Linked DNA regions of Homo sapiens. The protein of the gene in region 1 interacts with the protein of each later gene in a pairwise test. Each region holds a gene or a part of one and is shown on either strand. Other genes may lie near its edges. The genes, in order: CDYL and H3C10.

What was found.
Region 2: the proteins of CDYL (region 1) and H3C10 interact in binary tests that used the Homo sapiens proteins (3 or more experiments, as listed by UniProt).

Annotation. Positions count from the first base shown.
Region 1 is NC_000006.12:4,782,643-4,786,472, reverse strand, and holds part of CDYL (chromodomain Y-like protein), read right to left. Parts: intron 1-3,830.
Region 2 is NC_000006.12:27,808,730-27,811,173, forward strand, and holds H3C10 (histone H3.1), read left to right. Parts: upstream 1-1,321; 5' UTR 1,322-1,344; coding exon 1,345-1,755; 3' UTR 1,756-1,807; downstream 1,808-2,444. UniProt on the Homo sapiens protein: Core component of nucleosome. Nucleosomes wrap and compact DNA into chromatin, limiting DNA accessibility to the cellular machineries which require DNA as a template.

The DNA.
Region 1 (3,830 bases):
TCAGCTAATGCCTCCTTTACCCGGCATCATTATGGAAGGTAACACAGTCCGTCTCTGCTTCTGAAGCCAGAGTACACACACACAGCAAGAGACCAAGGGCACACAGGGCCACTAATCCACAGCTCAGCTTCCTGAAACATCAGCCTAAATCAAGGATCTCTGGAGAAGAGCTCCTTGGTAAATATGTTTAAAATATTTCATATTGAATCCCAAAAATTGTATGGACTACATGGTTAATATCATAAAACATGTAAGGTAACTTGAGATTTCAAACAACAGGTCAGGCTTGCAAAGGCCATTTCCTCCTCCCTCCCACCTCCACCTCCTTAGGAGAATTCCTGCTGACTCCTCTGCCGTCTGGAGAACTTGGGTGGAAATGACCATAAAATTTATGTTTAAGTTTACCATAAAAGTAGACTTAATTTTTTCGCTTACACTTACATAGCAACACTTTTTAAAAACTCTTCTTGATAGCTCTTTGCAACATATGCCTTTTCTTTCATAAGCATGCCCTTCACTTGCTCTAAGGGGCGCAGGACTGGCCCCACGGAGCCTGTCACCTCAAGACTTGGAGTGCCATCACCAGCTACCCTCTTCAGCGAACTTCATGAACAAACTTATTAACGTCAATTCACCTGCCTCTGGCAGAGCCTTTTCCTTTACCAAATAACCTGTTTCTAACATGCTAAAGGTGCCAGTCAAGTCCAAGTACATAATGCCTAAAGGAAATGTCAACAGTCTCCAAGAGAGACCCAGAGCTGTTGTCCAGTGTGCATGGGGTGGTGCATCTTTTTGCAAACTAAGATGACTTTTTTTGTCCTGGTTCTGAGATACACTAAAGAGCTGGGATATCCACATTAGTTACATGCTATTAATAAAATAAGAAAAGCTTCTGTGTGCAACTATGTGATGCCTTGAATTCCTAAACAGTAAACTACTAATGAAAAATGGGTACAAGTGAAAAACGGATACATTTTAACCAAAGAACATTCATGATGTGCAGTCAACATTGTTGGGTTTTAACAACAAACACTAGGAAGCTACCAACAAAGAAAACTTCACATAGCAGAGAGCCTACTACAAATGGAAATAAGACAAAAAGTAAATAAAAGACATTCTCTAGATATATTGAAGCTAACCTCTCCACAAAAAAGAAAGTATACTATACGGTCACACGTTGCTTAACTACAGTGATATGTTCTCAGAAATGCGTTGTTAGGCAATTTCACTGCTGTGCGAACCTCACAGAGTGAACTTACACAAACATCAATGTTGTAGCCTACTACACACCTAGGCTGTATGGTAGAGCCTATTGCTTCCAGGCTACAGACCTGTACAGATGTTACTGTACTGAACACTGTAGGCAATTTTAACACAATAGTGAGGACTTGTGTATTAGTCCATTCTCACATTGCTAATAAAGACATACCCGAGACCGGGTAATTTATAAAGGAAACGAGTTTAATTAACTCAGTTCCACATGGCTGGGGGGGCCTCACAATCATGGAGGAAGGTGAATGAGGAGCAAGGTCACACGTTACATGGTGGCAGGCAAGAGAGCTTGTGCAGGGGAACTCCTTTTTATCAAACCATGAGATCTCATGAGACTCACTATCAGGAGAACAGCAAGGGAAAGATCCACCCCACGATTCAACTACCTCCCACAGGGTCCCTCCCATGGTACGTGGGAATTATGGGAGCTACAATTCCAAATGAGATCTGGGTGAGGACACAGCCAAACCATATCAACTTGTGTATCTAAACATAGAAAAGGTACAGTAAAAATGTGGTATTATAATCTTACGGGACCACCATCGTAAGACCAAAGTATCATTATGTGGTACAAGACTATATATCAAGGCATGCCGAACAAAGACATTGAACATTTTGCTTCAGAAGCAATTGCGTTATAACTATTATAATCCATTTTCATAAACAGTCCTCTTGAAAACTACTGTTTTGCATTTTCAATATCATCAGGTAAATCTCAAGTGTTGGTTCAAAGCCTCAATCCCTGCTCATGTCACAAATTCCAAATCAAGAAGGTTTCTTCAGATTCTGGCAATAAAGCAAACATGACTCCAAAGGGCCCTCTCATTACAAATTAACTAGATCTTTAATAAAATATAACTCTCATTAACAGTGATACCATATAGCAATTGTAGGAAACAAGGAAAATATCCCAGCTGCCTCAGTAACTGCCCCCAACCCAAAATAATGACTAAATCATAAAATGGACAAACACCAAAGACTTAAAAAACGAATTGCAGATTAGGTAAAAACTCCCCAGAATATTTCGAAGTAAAAAATGTAATTATTGAAAATTAAAACTCAATGGTTGAATAAAACAGCAGATTAAACACAGCTCATTAGTGAACTATAGTTTAGATCCAAGGAAATAGCTAAAATGCAGCACATAAAAAGAAAACAAAACACAAACAAGGAGATGGAAATGAAAAGGTAAAAGACAAAGAAGAGAGAATGAAATGATCTGATAGATGTCTACTTGGAATTCCTGACGAGTACAGAGAAGGAGTATTTGAAGACAAACTGGCCAAATCCATTTTCGAGCTGATGAGGCACAAATCCAAAAAGCAGCACAACATATACCCACCTAACTAATAAAAAATCACACAAAATACATTGTCGTATTAAACAAGAGGAAACCAAAGTCAAAGAGATGATCTCAAGAACAACCAGAGACAGAAGACAGATCTCCTATAAAGTGACTGCACCTATGCTGACAACAGTCTTGGCCAGGTGCAGTGTGGCTCACACCTGTAATCCAAGCACTCTGGGAGGCTGAGGCGGGTGGATCACTTGATGTCAGGAGTTCGAGACTAGCCTGACCAACATGGTGAAACCCCATCTCTACTAAAAATACAAAAAATAGCCAGGCATGGTGGTGCATGCCCATAATCCCAGCTACTTGAAAGGCTGAGGCAGGAGAATCACTTGAACCAGTGAGGCAGAGGCTACAGTAAGCCAAGATCATGCCACTGCACTCCAGCCTGGGCGACAAGAGTGAAACGCCACCTCAAAAAAAAAAAAAAAAGTCTCAAGAATAGTGCAAAGGCAAGGCAGAAGACAATGGAGCACCATCTTCAGAAGGAGCTGAAAGAAATTAACCAATTAACTGGTTTTATTTGAAATACTATTCTCTTTCAAAAAATGATGGCAAAATAAAGACATGTCCAGATAATAATAATTAAAAAAAAAAAACCTAGAAACTTTTCCATCCATAGTCCCTCACTAAAGAAATCTCTAAAGGATACACTTAAGAAAAAAAAAAATCCCAGAAGGAAGTTCTGAGATAGAAGATGGACGATCTGATTGAAGAAACTATGAAGTCAGAGGTGAATCTAAAGAAAGGTTGTATAAAATAATAATGTTCTATTTGATGAGGGATTTTTTCATGGGCAATAAGAAAGCAGTAGCATGTGAGTTCAGGAATGCACCAGGGTTCAAGGAATGTAAAATCTTTACATTGTCAGAAGTGCCATTAAATACTGACTATCTTTAGACATCATGTATGCATAGCTGCAAAATTAGCCACTTAAAGACTAGAAATAGCATACAACTTCTAAACCCAATCAGTGAGGTTTTAATATGGTTTTACTGTAATTTGTGGCAGAGGACAGTTCAACAAAAATAATGTCAAAGTGGTCCGTGGAGGGCAGCCACAGATAAGTCTTAGTTCAAAGGTCTCGATGCAGTTTTTAATACTTGCTTTGGGTCCTATATCCCTCTGAGAATCAGATGAAAGCTCTTGATTCTCTCCCTCTGAAATATGCTCATATGTACTTGTTTAAATTTTCATAAAATTCTAT
Region 2 (2,444 bases), about 23 Mb from region 1:
ACCACTCCAAAGGTTACGTAGATCAGTCTTCGGTGTCTTGGTTAGGTAGTGACAATCTCGTTAGCTTTATAAAAAGCCTGGATAACATTAAAAGTATTAAACACGCCTTCATCTTAAGCTTAGTGGAAGAAAATTTAGTTTTTCCTAAGCTGGCATTATCCAAGTATGTTGAATTCTGTATGGTTCACCGTCGGGTTTTACTTTTAGTCTGTTGAAGCAAACATGTCTGCTTTGGGGCCAGATGTTTTCTGGGTCTTGGTAAATAACAAACCGGGCATTCGACGTTCAATCCAAATCTAGATCAACGACTTGGATTCTTCATTTCTGAGAAATATCTCTCGAATCTGTATAATTAATTGCATTTGAACATTAATGATTGAGTTGAGAATAATTATTAGACTAATTAGAACAGTTACTTATGGTGCCAGGTAGTTCTCTTTGAAGCATTTTCTGAAAATTCATTGAAATTAAAATTTCCCGAGCTTTCCCACCCCCAGCCACACAAATTGATTTCTTAGTACAGAGATGACTTAATTTGTTTCAGCATGGTAAATTCCACTTTTAAAATATCTGACTTGATGTTTTTAATCTGAATCAGATCTGGATGTACGAATGGAATAGATTCTTAAAAGAAAATGAATTACATTTCTAGAGTATTGGAAAAATAAGCTGCAATGGAATTACTTTAATCTAAAAGTGAAAAGTTCACATAAAGTTGTTTCTTTGACATTTTTTGGCCTTGAATTTCTCACATGCGAACCAGCTTTTCTTGGTTATAAAAATAGAAGTTTTTTAAATTTAAGTGGTCAAAAGATAGAAAATTGAGGGGACAGGTGTATAAGGCTGTCCTGTCCAGTATTGCAGCCACTAGCCAATTGTGGATAGTGATCATTGGAAATTCCATAGCATGAATTTTATATAAAATACACATTGCATTTGGAAAAGTCAGTGCCAAAAAGTGTAAAATACCTAACAATTTTAATTTCGATAACATTGAAATATGTTGGCTATATTGGATTAAGCAAAATATTAAAAATTAATTTTTCCTTGTTTTGTTACAATGTTCTCCTAGATAAGTGTAAATTACTTATATTGCTCTCATTTCCACTGGAAATCGCTAGTATAGTGAACAACTGTATAGCGAAAATAGAAAATAAAATATGGAGACCATGAACTGCTAAGTCTGTCAGAGGAATAGGTGAACAACAAAAATTTGAGTCCTTCGCCAATCCGGTTACTGTTGGGTAGGCCTTCAGCATACTTTTGTCCAATCAGCTTCAGACTCTCACTATAAATAAGCGGCTAGCTTTCTCTTTCTCCTGAAGTGAATCTAGCTCTGAAGGCATGGCGCGTACGAAGCAGACTGCTCGCAAGTCCACCGGCGGCAAGGCTCCGCGCAAGCAGCTGGCCACCAAGGCGGCTCGGAAGAGCGCTCCGGCCACCGGCGGTGTCAAGAAGCCCCATCGCTATCGGCCTGGTACAGTGGCTCTCCGCGAGATTCGCCGCTACCAGAAGTCCACCGAGCTGCTGATCAGAAAGCTGCCTTTTCAGCGTCTGGTGCGTGAGATCGCGCAGGACTTCAAGACCGACTTGCGCTTCCAGAGCTCCGCGGTGATGGCGCTGCAAGAGGCATGCGAGGCCTACCTGGTGGGGCTCTTTGAGGACACCAACCTGTGCGCCATCCACGCCAAGCGGGTGACTATCATGCCCAAGGACATCCAGCTCGCACGTCGTATCCGCGGCGAGAGGGCTTGAGTCTCAAGGACTCACTGATTACATACCCAAAGGCTCTTTTCAGAGCCACCCACATGCGCGCTGAAAAGATCTGTTTCTCTCAGGAATTCTTCCTGGTACTTGTTTTGCCTGTAGTAGATAGGGCCCATTTCCAGACGTTATACAATCTGTTTCGTAAGACTCAGCCTATCCCTTTTTGAATGCTAATTTTGGGAGTCTTAACATCTAATAATGTCCGGCATTTTTCCGTAAGCATTGAGTGTAGCCAAAAGTTCCTTCGTGTATTGCTCTCCCATCTCCGCAGCCCGGTTTTGACCGGATGGTGCTTCTAATTTTCTGCTAACCTGTACTGTGGTGTGTGTATATTTCTTGCCAACACGCCAGAAATAAAACTAAGGTTGTACTGAAGTTGGAAAAATTCAGGTTAATGTAGCTCATGCTGGCTAAAGTGAAACGTTCTCTCCCCGCCCCCCGTTCCTAAGCAGTGTTAAGTTTTCTTTGAATTTTTTCAAGCCGGATTTTGGGCCTGCTTAAACCACTTAAATGTAGTTAATGACAGATGGTTTGAGGTTTAAAAGTCTTCTGGAGAAAGCCCGCCAGAGAACATTCCCTTTGAAGCCCCATGTAAAAATACGTGTGGGAGAGAAAGTGTTTTCTCTGACTTCTGCTGACAGTGGCTAAAACTCTGAACTGTCAGGAGTATTCAAAAT